Linked DNA regions of Homo sapiens. The protein of the gene in region 1 purifies or fractionates together with the protein of each later gene. This does not show direct contact. Each region holds a gene or a part of one and is shown on either strand. Other genes may lie near its edges.

Region 1 (6,833 bases):
AGACACACAGAGAGATCTGTATGATGGCTCTGAAAGTGGCTGAACACAGATGAGGATGAGGATGAATATTTGAAGCTTGGGTTTTGGTTTCTAAACTATTCCCCATCTCTTTTTTTTTTTTTTTTTTTTTTTTTGAGACAGTCTTGCTTGCTCTGTTGCCCAGGCTGGAGTGCAGTGGTGTGATCTCAGCTCACTGCAATCTCCACCTCCCAGGTTCAAGTGAGTCTCCTGCCTCAGCCTCCTGAGTAGCTGGGATTACAGGCACGTGCCACCACGCCCAGCTAATTTTTGTATTTTTAGTACAGACAGGGTTCCATGTTGGTCAGGCTGGTCTCGAACTCCTGACCTTGTGATCTGCCCACCTTGGCCTTTCAAAGTGCTGGGATTATAGGCGTGAGCCACCGCGCCCGGCCTTTTCTTTTCTTTTTTTTTTGAGACAGAGTCTTGCTCCGTCGCCCAGGCTGGAGTGCAGTGGCACGATCTCGGCTCACTGCAACCTCCACTTCCTGGGTTCAAGCGATTCTCCTGGCTCAGCCTCCCGAGTAGCTGGGATAACAGGCGCCCACCACTAGGCCTGGCTAATTTTTGTATTTCCAGTAGAGATGGGGTTTCACCATGTTGGCCAGGCTGGTCTCAAACTCCTGACCTCAGGTGATCCATCTACCTTGGCCTCCCAAAGTGCTGGGATTACAGGCATGAACCACCTCGCCTGGTCTTTTTTTTTTTCTAAAGCAATGTAAGCTACTGAATTTGAGGTCAGTCCAGTATGACTACATACACTCCTTTTTTTTTTTTTTTTTTTTTTTTTTTTTGAGACAGAGTTTCACTCTTGTCGCCCAGGTTGGAGTGCAATGGCAGGATCTTGGCTCACTGCAACCTTTGCTTCCCGGGTTCAAGCGATTCTCCTGCCTCAGCCTCCGGAGTAGCTGGGATTACAGGCGTGCGCCACCATGCCCAGCTAATTTTTGCATTATTAGTGGAGATGGGGTTTTACCCTGTTGGCCAGGCTGGTCTCGAACTCCTGACCTCAGGTGATCTGACCACCTCGGCCTCCCAAAGTGCTGGGATTACAGGGGTTAGCCACCGCGCCCAGCCATTTTTTTTTTTTTCTAAAGCAATGTAAGCTACTGAATTTGAGGTCAGTCCAGTATGACTACATATGCTCAATTTTTTATGAGTATGAACATTTATTTCTCTGGATTCCTTCAGCAAACCTCATTCCCTTTCCTGTCTTGCCTAGGGAAAGCCATTTCTTTCAAAATGAAGTGAGGAATCCACGTCAGCTTGCATTTTCTTTCCTGTTTTCTCAGACAGAAGCAAGCAGAGAGCCACTAAAGGTCCCAGTGAGGAGGCCTGCAGAGAGCTATTTACCATTACAGTGCCGATCAATGGGAAGGCAGCTGCGGTGCCCAAAGGGGGTCAGGCTGGGTTGGATCTGCGCTCGGTACTCTGGTGGTCGTGGGAGGAAAATCACAGCAGGTTGGGCCTCGGTTCCTAGAAAACATCCCTGGCCATATTCATCTGTGGGATATTCTTACCACCCGGGATGCACAGGGGAAACATTACAGGGTGTTTTCTGCACCTCTGCTTTATTGAGTGCTGGGTCAAGTGTTATGCTGTCCTTTCTTTTTTTTTCTTTTTTCTGACGGAGTCTCGCTCTGTCACCCATGCTGGAGTGCAGTGGCGTGATCTCGGCTTACTGCAAGCTCCGCCTCCCGGGTTCACGCCATTCTCCTGCCTCAGCCTCCCAAGTAGCTGGGACTACAGGCGCCCGCCACCACGCCGGGCTAATTTTTTGTATTTTTAGTAGAGACGGGGTTTCACCATGTTAGCCAGGATGGTCTCCTGACCTCGTGATCCGCCCGCCTCGGCCTCCCAAAGTGCTGGGATTACAGGCGTGAGCTACCGCGACGGCCTGTCCTTTCCATGCATTATCTTATTTCATCTTTCCAGCAATCCTGTAAGGTAGTCACTCTAAATATCCTATTTTGAGATGAGGAAACTGAGTCACAGGGGGGTTCAGTAATGTGCTCAAGATTGCACAGCTGGTGAGTGGTGACACTGGGACTGGAACCCAAGTGTGCCTTACTCCAGAGCCCTTGGCATGCACCTGAAACCCCATGTAAGCCCACTGTGGAGACGCGCACCTCGAAATAATGGAATCCACTACATCAGTTCCTTTAGCTTTCTGTGTAATCAGAGTAGCTAGCAGGCTCGGGATTTCGCCCCCCGGCTTTTTTTTTTTTTTTTTTTTGAGACAGAGTTTTGCTCTTGTTGCCCAGGCTGGAGTGCAATGGCGCAATCTCGGCTCACCGCAACCTTCGCCTCTCAGGTTCAAGCAATTCTCCTGCCTCAGCCTCCCGAGTAGCTGGGATTACAGGCACCGGCCACCACGCCCAGCTAATTTTTTTATATTTTTAGTAGAGATGGGGTTTCACCATGTTGGCCAGGCTGGTCTTGAACTTTTCCCCTCTTATTATAATTCAGACACTTAACCTGAAATATACCTTTTCAAATGAAGTAAATGGGCTTACCACTTTCCTTGACCTACTATTGAAAAATACATTCTCCATCCAATATTCAGCCTGAAAACAGGTATGTACATATATACTTTTCATTGCTTTTTTTTTTTTTTTTTTGAGACAAGGTCTCCCTCTGTTGCGCAGGCTGGAGTGCAGTGTCATGATCTCGGCTCACTGCAGCCTTCCCCTAATGGGTTCAAGCAATCCTCCCACCTCAGCCTCTCAAGCCTGGGATTACAGGCGAGCCACCGTGCCCAGCTAATTTTTTTTTATTTTTAGTAGAGACTGGGTTTCACTACATTGGCCAGGCTGGTCTCCAGCTCCTGACCTCAAAGTGATCTGCCCGCCTCAGCCTCCCAAAGTACTGGGATTACAGGCATGAGCCAACGCGCCTAGCCTTTCATTGCTTTTTAAAGACCTAATAGGCTAGACTTTGCTCTCCCTCAATACTCGTTGGTAGGGATAGGCAATTTTCTCAACTCCGGAGAGCATTCATTTGCCTCTCTCCGGTGCTAACACATTCAGTGGTAGGAAACTGGATCTTGAACAAGGGCCATTCATTCTTTGGTGCCACTGGCTATACCACAGAGAAATTTAGGGGTCTGAAACAATACATTGGTCACCTGGGCACCTATCCTAAGCACCTTAGAGGGAAAACGGAGACTTGCCCGCACACCTCTAAAGGATTTTGCACTTGGAGATGTTCTTATGGCCATCTATCTTTTCACCCTGGTGGAGGCCGTGAATAGGCATTTTCCCCATTTAAAGAAAAAATGGGGACGGGGGAGGGCCGTGACACAGTCACACAGGTAAGGGGCAGCCAGATGGCAGGGAGGGGGAATTCCACCCACACTCTCGGGGACTCATGGAGACGGGTGTTCGAATCCAGATCCTGCTCAAGGCCTTCCTACCTCGGGTGAGCCCAGCTGAGGTACCAGCCACTGGGGAGCCCGGCCAGATCCTGCAGATGCAGGGTGCCACGGCGGGCGGAATTACCGGCGCCAGACTTGGGGTGGGATATGGGGAGAAGTGGTGAGCCCGGAAAGCGGAGCACGGTAGAAGTGGGCTGGGTGGGGGCTCACCTCAACTCCCCCATTCGGAGCGTCCGCGGAAAAACGAAAACGTTCCCCCGCCCCGGGCAGGAAGGGGTTGGGAGGGGGGGCTGGCGCCCCGCCCCAGCGTCGCCTGCTCGATGGGGTCCCGCTCTCCTGCGCGCGCTCCCCGCCCCCTCTCTCCGGGGCGGCGGCGGCGGCGCAGGGGAAGGGGCGGGCAGGGGCCGCCGCCGGTTTCTCCTCCCACCGCCTCGCGCCAGCCCAGCCGAGCCGAGCCGAGCCGAGCGGGCGCCGCGCCGGGCTCCCGCCGCAGCCGCGCTTCCCGGCACCCAGCGAGCGAGTGGGCAGGCGGGCGGGCGAGGCAGCCGCGGGGGCCGGGCCCGGCGTCCTCCTCGCCGCCCGCAGCGTCCCCGGGCGGGCGCGGGCCGCGATGGCAGCGGCGGAGCAGGGCTGAGCCCGCTGCCCGCCCGCAGTTCCCGGCCCCGCTGGCCCCAGTCATGGCGAAGCAGTACGATGTGCTGTTCCGGCTGCTGCTGATCGGGGACTCCGGGGTGGGCAAGACCTGCCTGCTGTGCCGCTTCACCGACAACGAGTTCCACTCCTCGCACATCTCCACCATCGGTAAGGGGCGGTGGCCCGGGGCGCCCCTCCCTCCCCGCCCGCGGCCCCTTTCCCCGCCGCCCCCGTCCCCAGCTGGGGAGGAATTGCCAGCCCCTCCGGCTGGAGGCGGTGGCGCCGGAGGCCGGAGTCCGGGATAAATCTCGGGGTGAGCATAGGTTTTGGCAGGTGAGGGTGTCCCTGCTGCCTGCCGTCCGGACCAGGGGTGGGGTCTCCCGCCTCTTGCCGGGAAGCCTTCCGTCCCATCAAACCGAGAAACCGGGGGTGAGGGGAGCTGGTGTAGGCCTGGGTACCCCGAGCTGGGGTAGCAAGAATCGTAGCCGCTGGAATAACATCCCCACACCCCCAGGGGGAGGGGAAGTAAAGCTTCTGCTACGGAAAAGGGGGTCAGGGTGGAGACCGGAGTCACTGAGGCGCCCTTGGTTCTGTGGTGACCCAAGGTGGAGCCGGCGGGGGGCGAGGGGGGGAAGAGAGGACGTACGGAGGGGCCACAGGGATCGAGTTTCCAGGGCAGAGTTGGGAAGGTAAGCCGCAAGGTGGGACACCTGGGGGAGGACACAGATAGGGTGAGGAGCCCCTGCGCCTGGGAAGAGGAGACATCTGTTCTGAGGGAGGCTAAAGAGGATGGAGGAGTGTCAGGAATACCTGCCCAGACCAAGGGGTCAGAAGGCAGGCAGGACCCGCCTGAGGGCATCTCTCATCTGGCAGTGCTGGAGCCTGTGGTTAGAGGGACAAGACCCGGTGGCATCCCAGACAGCACTATGATGGGGTCACTTATTCTAGGAATGGGTCCATGGCCTCCCCTCTGAGACAGTCAGTCTCCCGCTTCTAGGCTGTGAGGGGCCCCCTCCCTGAGAAGTCTGAGTAGAGGGAATTTCATCCTCAGCTGCTACCCGGGTCAGCCCTGGAGTAGCCTCTGCATTGCCCAGGCCCCTGGAAACACCTGCTGGCTGGCTGGTCATCCATTTGGAATGCTCTCCTAGAAGTCCCTGCTGCCATCAGGGATGGGCACCAGCTCTCAGCTTCCTCTTGAGGATTCATGTCCACACCATCCCCCCTCCCCCCAACACACATTCCTTGCTGAGAGAGAAGTAGGAGCAGATAGATACAGCCAGGAGGAACAGAACCTTCTGGTTAAGAAGCCAGCTTTATTGTCCAAGAGACCTGAGACCTCACTGTGGGGCAAAGCAACCTTGAATATTGCCTAAACTTCTGAGCTTTATTTAGTTTCTCATCTGTAGAACGGGTATAATAATTGCACCTACCTGCCAAGTTGTTGTCAAGATTAAATGAGATAACGATTGTTAAGTGCTTAGCACAGCCAGACACATGGTGAAGCTCGATAAATGCTGATTGTTCTTACTGCTATTGCCATTATCATTGAGCTTTTAGGGTCTCCTCTCTTTGTTTCACCAACTTGAAGGGTGAAACAACAGGACTTAGGGTCAGGGAACAGAACTTGTCCGTCTTTCTCAGAGGAGCTGTAAGGCCAACTCTTAGGAAACCCAGGAGCTTGGGCTGAGCCATGGTTTGGATGAGAGACATTGCAGAAAGAAGGGGAGCCTATAGACACTAAGGCTTTGTGCCTGCCGGGAGGACTTGGGGAAGAGGCAGGTGCAGGAGAAAGGCATGGGCGTGATGGAGGAAGTGGCAGAGGAACCAGATGGTGTATGAGGACAGGTTGTGGGCTCAGGGACAAAGGGCGGTGGGTTATCCCTTAAGGAAACTAGGAGTGGCTATTTTTGGGAGAGGCCTGGTGCTTGGAACTACTGAGCTATCTCCAGAGAGCTGTGGGCTGCCTGGGAGGCCCTGGCTTTGGCCTGAAGAGCTGTTGTTTGCACCTGCTCTCCTAGTCCCATTCCAAGTCCTATAGGTGACATGGACTTTTCCCTTTGAGGGCTTCATTCAACCACCTCATTTCAGAAGCTCTGGGACTCCTGCTTAGTGCTGTGGGAGGCAGCCTCCCCTGGGAGACACATACCCTCCTTTTTGAGGGCACCCCTCTTTCTAAAATACCAGGATGGCCCTCTGAGGCTCGTGCTCTCCTTAAAGAGAGTCCATTGCCTCACACCTCTAATCATCCACCCTTCTCCTTGTCCCTTCCCCTTGTAATCTCCCTTCTTAGACACCTTCTGCTAATAGGTGAACACTAAATAGGTCACAGGGACTTCCTGAAACCCTCCAGGGCAGACCACTTTGGGCACATAGGTGAATCAGTGAACTGAGTAGGGGTGTCTCTGCAGCACTGTCTCCCCTCAAGGCCCTTGGTATATTGGCCTAAAACCTAAAGATGGCTCCCAGATTTCTTCCTCCGCTTCTGACACCCGGGTTCCCCTTTCTACAGGACACAGAGGATTCTCTAGGGTCCCCCTTTCCACAGGACACAGAGGACTCTAGGAGTTTGGATTCCATGGAATAGAAAGAAACCTGTCTTTCTTCACACCAGCCTTTTAAAATCTGCCCCACTGGGTATCTTAAATGCTTTCTTATTTAAAGCTTATTAAGGGACTTGGGATTCTCCCTTATCTTGGGCGTGTTTTTCAGCATTAACTAAAACTTAAAGGAAAGAGTTGGATGGTCAAGAAAAGCTTTTTCCTTAAGTGATATGGACAGTTTCTCAAGGAGGTAGAAGGGGCAGCCA
Region 2 (7,028 bases), on another chromosome or scaffold:
TGTGATTCTTGTCGTCCTGGTTGTGGCTGTTGTGGCAAGTTCTGTGAATAGCTACTATTCCTCTCCAGCCCAGCAAGTGCCCAAAAATCCAGCTTTGGAGGCCTTTTTGGCCCAGTTTAGCCAATTGGAAGATAAATTTCCAGGCCAGAGTTCCTTCCTGTGGCAGAGAGGACGGAAGTTTCTCCAGAAGCACCTCAATGCTTCCAACCCCACTGAGCCAGCCACCATCATATTTACAGCAGCTCGGGAGGGAAGAGAGACCCTGAAGTGCCTGAGCCACCATGTTGCAGATGCCTACACCTCTTCCCAGAAAGTCTCTCCCATTCAGATTGATGGGGCTGGAAGGACCTGGCAGGACAGTGACACGGTCAAGCTGTTGGTTGACCTGGAGCTGAGCTATGGGTTTGAGAATGGCCAGAAGGCTGCTGTGGTACACCACTTCGAATCCTTCCCTGCCGGCTCCACTTTGATCTTCTATAAGTATTGTGATCATGAGAATGCTGCCTTTAAAGATGTGGCCCTGGTCCTGACTGTTCTGCTAGAGGAGGAAACATTAGAAGCAAGTGTAGGCCCAAGGGAAACGGAAGAAAAAGTGAGAGACTTACTCTGGGCCAAGTTTACCAACTCTGACACTCCCACCTCCTTCAACCACATGGACTCAGACAAATTGAGTGGGCTGTGGAGCCGAATTTCACACCTGGTACTGCCAGTCCAGCCAGTGAGTAGCATAGAAGAACAGGGGTGCCTTTTCTAAAGCTAAGCACAGAGTTGGTTACAGAAGGTATATGTTTATGAAAAAGTTTGTTTAAAGACCTTCCATTTATATGGAAGGAGGTTGATAAAATAGCTTGAGGAAATAGCCTGAAAAACAAAGATGAGCTTATTTTAGAAACAAGTTTTTATTTTTTATTCCTTGTAAAATCTTTCTAATCTAAGCCTTGACAAAGCTAAAAATTAACCTGACTTTTTTTCTTTGGACCAAATCAGGTTTGAAATATCGATGATATATATGAGAATTTTTTTTAAATTCTAAAATATAGCAACATTGCACAGGAAGATACTCTTACTTCTTAGAGTAACTACAGAGTGATTTTTTTTTTTTCTTGAGTGAGACTCTGAAGAACCTTTTCGATAATGTTTGGACTTGGACTAAAGCAATTAGAATTATGAAGCAATGATAACCTTTAGAAAATTTTTCTATCACATGTTGAATATTTTCAAACCTTACTTTAATAATCTAAAGTTACGGGATTATATCTTATATTAATTTTGCAGTTTTGAGTAGTATGATAAAAGAAATAAGAATTCAAACCATTAAGTACCTACCTAAATACTACATGTAAGGCACTGTGCTTTTATTTCATTCAGCTGAGGTATAAGCAGCTGTACTCAAATGTTCTTAAAAATGAGAACCAGTGGGGAAATTGTTTATAATCATTGGAAATGAAGAAATTCCAATTGGCTATATCTTTACTTCAGCTTTTCTTGAACAATTTACAGCATTGATTTTCAAACTGTGTCTACTGGCACCCTTCCCCTTTGTATCAGAGCAGTTCTGCTTTTAACTGTTTTATATGTTGGGGTTCTCTATGAGATTTCATTGGAACAAAGAGTTTCACTGATATTCGAGTTTGAAAACCATTGATTAAGTGAAAAAACATCTTAGAAGATAGGAAATATGTTTAAAAAATGAATGTATTAAATCTTATGAGTAGGAAGATGAAATACAGGTTTATTGTATAGATACATTATTTATGAAGGATAAAGATCTATACATGAACAGCAGAATGTATAAGCTAGCATTTACTAGCATGTCTCTGATGCTTTTGTTCATTTCTGTTAATCGTCATTTCTGTCCCCTCTGCATGGAATTTTATACTTGTCTAGGGTAAGAGTTTGTAGACTCTTTCAGCAGAACAGATTTTAATAACCAATTTATTTGTTTTATTTTAAAAATTTATTTTTGAATAACCAATTTAATAGTAAATTTTATATGAACATTTGGCATAACTTTACCAGTTTATTTCTATGCAGTGATGGAACATTATGTAATGCAGCTCATTTCTTGACCAACTAGTTATAGAAGTACCATTAGGTTAAAAATTAGAGAAATCTAAGAGATGTTATACTTAGTGAGAGGAAGCAGAAATGGTGGGTAGATTCTCAGAGGTTTTGATGTTCAGTACTGACGGACCATGTTCTGTGATTGTAAGAAAGATTGAAAACAGTTTGTATGGAGATAGAGTTGATTAGCATTTGAGCTCTGAAAGCAGAACTCTAGTAAAATGATCTCGACCTAACAAAGGGTCTGTTCCATTATATAGACTATTACCATAATCCTGGATTATTTCAACTGGGTTTTGGCCTCTCCATTATATGAGATCATATGTATATAGCTAAGAAGTCTGATTAAAGTATGGAAAGATTTTAGGAAACACTAAGAAGATACAGGGATCTTTACTGATACCTAAAAAGATTACAATTGAGTAATTGCTCAATTGAGTGTAGGGGCATACCTGAAGGAAGAATTTGCATTTGGGACTTCGAAGGAAGCTTCCAAGAGATTTGGGAAGAGACCTGAACAAAAAGTTAAAGCATGGTGAATGTGATATCACTGTCAATCCAGTATAAAAGCAGAGGAAGTTGAAGGAAAATCTGTATCCCATATGCACATTTTTTCTGTCTTTTTAGATCTTAGATGCTAGCGTTACATCCACAAAACCAGTGTTGCCTTGTATAACTATTATATTGGCCTGCTGACCTGTGCTACCTCAGATCTGTCAAGGAACCAGTATGTCGCATATTCTTGTTTCTTCATTCAGTTGAATATGGTTTTTCATCATTTCTCTTCAAAATAATTTAGAAAAATAAATTTCTAAAGTCATAATTTTTAATTTAGCCTTTTTAAAAACATTTTCCCTTCCATGTATAGTGCAATCAATTGAGGGTGTTGTCAGTTTTCTGTCTGCTATTTCAAAAGTCTTTTTTTTTTTTTTTTTTTTTTGAGATGGAGTCTCACTCTGACTCCCAGGCTGCAGTGCTGTGGCTTGATCATAGCTCACTGTAGCTTTAAACTCCTGGGCTCAAGCAATCCTCCCACCTTAGCCTCCTGAGTAGCCGGGACTACAAGTGCAGACTACCACACCACTCTACCACACTATTTTGTATAGAGACAGGGTCTTACTGTGTTGCCTAGGCTGGTCTTGAACTCCTGGCCTCAAGTGATCCTCCCACCTCAGCGTCCCAAAGTGTTTGGATTACAGATGTGACCCAATGCACCCAACCAAACTTCTTTTTTTTTTTTTTTTTTTTTTGAGAGAAGGTCTTGCTCTGTCACCCAGGCTGGAATGCAGTGCAGTGGCACAATCTCATCTCACTGTAACCTACACCTCCTGGGTTCAAGTGATTCTTGTGCCTCAGCCTCCCAAGTAGCTGGGATTACAGGCATGCACCACAATGCCCAGCTAATTATTGTATTTTTAATAGAGACGAGGTTTTGCTATGTTGTCCAGGTTGGTCTCGAACTCCTGGCCTCAATTGATCCGCCTGCCTTGGTCTTTCAAAGTGCTAGGATTATAGGCACGAGCCACTGCACCTGGCCTCAAAAATCATTTTTAAAAGAAGCAGTATATTAGCTCTGGGTCTTCTCATGACTAAAATGACTATTTTTAAACATAAGACCATATTTTATAAATGTACAGATAATTCAAATCTATTATCTAATGTATTAGGTTAATTTCTATTTGTTCTATACTTTTTTTTTTTTTTTTTTTTTTGAGATGGAGTCTTGCTCTGTTGCCCAGGCTGGAGTGCAGTGGTGCAATCTTGGCTCACTGCAAGCTCCGCCTCCTGGGTTCATGCCATTCTCCTGCCTCGGCCTTCCAAGTAGCTGGGACTACAGGTGCCCGCCCCGACACCTGGCTAATTTTTAAAAAAATATTTTTAGTAGAGACAGGGTTTCACCGTGTTAGCCAGGATGGTCTCGATCTCCTGACCTCGTGATCCGCCCGCTTTGGCCTCCCAAAGTGCTGGGATTACAGGCGTGAGCCACCGCACCCGGCCTATTGACATTTTTTAAGGTTTCAGATTTTCTTTTGTGTGTCTAGTAATTCGTCTTTTATTGTCAAAGATAATTTGCTTATTTGACTTAGAAAAATGATTTGTGGGCATACAATATTGTATGTGGTACCTAAACGTTGCCATTTAGTTACTCTTACAGAACAACTTTCATTACACTGTATATTAATATAAATTACTTCTTGAGTAATCCCAGAATTGTAGAACCAATTGGTAGAATCAGAAACTGTCTTTGGACTTGAGGTTTTTCTTCCCTTAGGGTAAATTTTAGGTTTTCTGGTTAGTTTCCAGGAGTTGGCGGACAAGTTCATATCACTAAAGGTGTTCATATCACTAAAATAGTAATGCTAATTTGTTTCATATTTCTATTTTAAAAAGCAATCAATAAAGACATTTCAATACATTTCATTTGGAAGCCCCCAAGTGTATGGTGGTTAATAAGGCTCAGCATGCTGGTAACCCACCATTCTCTTAGCTAGTGACTCCACTAAATAGTGCTAGCCGCTGAGATGGTTTTGACCCTTTAACAGCCTTTTTTTTTTTTTGAGACAGAGTTTCACTCTTGTTATCCAGGCTGGGGTGCAATGGTGCGATATCTCGGCTCACTGCAACCACTGCCTCCCAGGTTCAAGCGATTCTCCTGCCTCAGCCTGCCAAGTAGCTGGATTACAGGCACGTGCCATCACGCCCAGCTAATTTTTGTATTTTTGGTAGAGACGGGGTTTCCCCACGTTGACCAGGCTGGTCTCGAACTCCTCACCTCAAGTGATCCACCCGCCTCGGCCTCCCAAAGTGCTGGGATTACAGGCGTGAGCCACCGCGACTGGCCTACACAGCTTTTAATTGCTTGATTTATACTTTATTAAAGAGAGGAAGCACAATGAGCAGTGATACTAAAATATAACTAATATGGCATGTGAAAGTGATCATTATTCAGATGATCTTCACCAACACTGCATTTGCATATATCTGACCAAACTTTATGCGACATAGGCAGGTCTCTGGCACTTCAAAAATGAATGTTAAATAGAAAATAATAAATAATAGCTGATTAGGGTAATCATTTATTTAATCAGAATAAAGATTATATCCATAAAATTTACTTGCAGAGAAGTACTTTCTTTTTGTTTTAAAGACAGGGTCTCACTCTGTCACCCAAGCTATGGTGCAGTGGCACAATCACAGCTCACTGCAGCCTGGACCTCCTGGCCTCAAGGGGATGATCCTCCTACTTCAGGAATTATGCCACCATGCCCGGCTAGTTGAGAAGTACTTTCAAATAGCAACATGAAGCCTTTCCTTTACCATTTGAAAATAAAACATAGTTGTAAACATAAACCAGTATGTCTTTGTAAAGCCAATAATATATCATTTTATAGGAGCATTGTCTTCTTGTGTTTTTCAAGTTGACTATGTAGTTCAATGTCAGTCTCCATTTTAATATCTTGTTTGTTTATCAGCCTGAGCATATTTCATTTTAAAATGTATTTGTTGAGAAGTCATGGTGGTTTTTTGTTTTTCACAAGTCAAGTAGCTTGAACACTATCACTTGTCCAATGGGAAAGTTGATGCTTATCTTTATGGCAAATGCTTGGTTGAATAATATATTTGCAAAGATGTTAATTCTACAGAGAGCTAAATAAAGTTAAGATACCTGTAAAACAGTTTCTCCAGATGACTTTAAAATAAGCCTTATTTTTGTAAATTTATGTTAAATTTTAGGTGTTAAGTTGTGAAATACCTAATGATGTGGGCCTAAATTTGCCTCATTCAGACTGAGACAGGGCTGTTAAAATTCATTTCTAGCTAATAAACTGTGCTATAACTTCTTTATTATTATTATTATTATTATTATTATAGTTTAAGTTCTGGGATACATGTGGAGAACATGCAGGTTTGTTAACATAGGTATACACGTGCCATGGTGGTTTGCTGCACCCATCAACCCGTCATCTACATTAGGTATTTCTCCTAATGCTATCCCTCCCCCAGCCCCCCACCCCCTGACAGGCCCCAGTGTGTGATGTTCCCTGCCCTGTGTCCAAGTGTTTTCTTTGTTCAATTCCCACCTATGAGTGAGAACATGCGATGTTTGGTAAACTGTGCTATAACTTCTGTATCTCTATAGGCCAATCCAAATGGCCTGAGAACATAATCAGTATCCCCTAATCTGCAAAAAGGTAAATACCTTAGTCTTCAGTACCTTTCCTTCCAGTATTATCTGCATTATCTGTGCCCGCTTGCTGTGATGTCTTGAAAAGCCCATAAATTGGTTCTTATTTTGGCAAATGGTCTCCTGCTTTTCCTCACTGAGGCTTATAAACTAAATTTGCCTTTGGCTAAGCGCAGTTACATGAACCAAAAAGAACATTTTAGACTTGGGAAGCAACAGGCTGAGTCACATTGTATGGGGCAGAGTTGGCCAAGCCCCCGGCAGTCACAGCCCTACTCTCTGTGTTCCTTCTAGGCCTGAGGACGCATCAACACAAAGCTCCAGGCAGTTGCTCCTGGTTCATCAGAGAGCACAGGAAATTTAAATCTATTTGCCTTTCCTGTCATAAAAGAAACAGCACACTGACTTTCAAACTCAATTGCATTTTGCTTATTTGTGCTTAACAAAAAATATGTGTGCTTTGCCAATACTAACGTCCCACTTCTCTGCACTCCCTTTCTGTATAACAGGGATTGCTTTTGTATTTGTTTCTTATAGATGCTGATGATGTGCCTTATTCAGATTAGTTGGCCATTACCAGAATAAAGAATAAATCTGAATTTTTTTCAGCGGACTGATTCTTGATTAAATTTCCCAAAATAGCAGGTTTATAGAAATGGGCATGTGGTGATTAATGGTGGGAAAGGAAACTGCCCTCATATGGCAGTAAGCTGAGGAGCTAGAGAATCCTGTGAGGGTTGTCAGGTGGCATTTTGTGGCCATCAGTGAAATGGTATAG

The links. The genes of interacting proteins can lie anywhere in the genome.
Region 2: the proteins of RAB15 (region 1) and TOR1AIP2 purify together in Homo sapiens (affinity purification with mass spectrometry; 2 studies listed by BioGRID and IntAct, with this or other methods). This does not show direct contact.

The regions. Positions count from the first base shown.
Region 1 is NC_000014.9:64,969,315-64,976,147, reverse strand, and holds the start of RAB15 (ras-related protein Rab-15), read left to right. Parts: upstream 1-3,811; 5' UTR 3,812-4,071; coding exon 4,072-4,195; intron 4,196-6,833. UniProt on the Homo sapiens protein: The small GTPases Rab are key regulators of intracellular membrane trafficking, from the formation of transport vesicles to their fusion with membranes.
Region 2 is NC_000001.11:179,839,797-179,846,824, reverse strand, and holds the end of TOR1AIP2 (torsin-1A-interacting protein 2), read left to right. Parts: coding exon 1-754; 3' UTR 755-6,849; downstream 6,850-7,028. UniProt on the Homo sapiens protein: Required for endoplasmic reticulum integrity. Regulates the distribution of TOR1A between the endoplasmic reticulum and the nuclear envelope as well as induces TOR1A, TOR1B and TOR3A ATPase activity.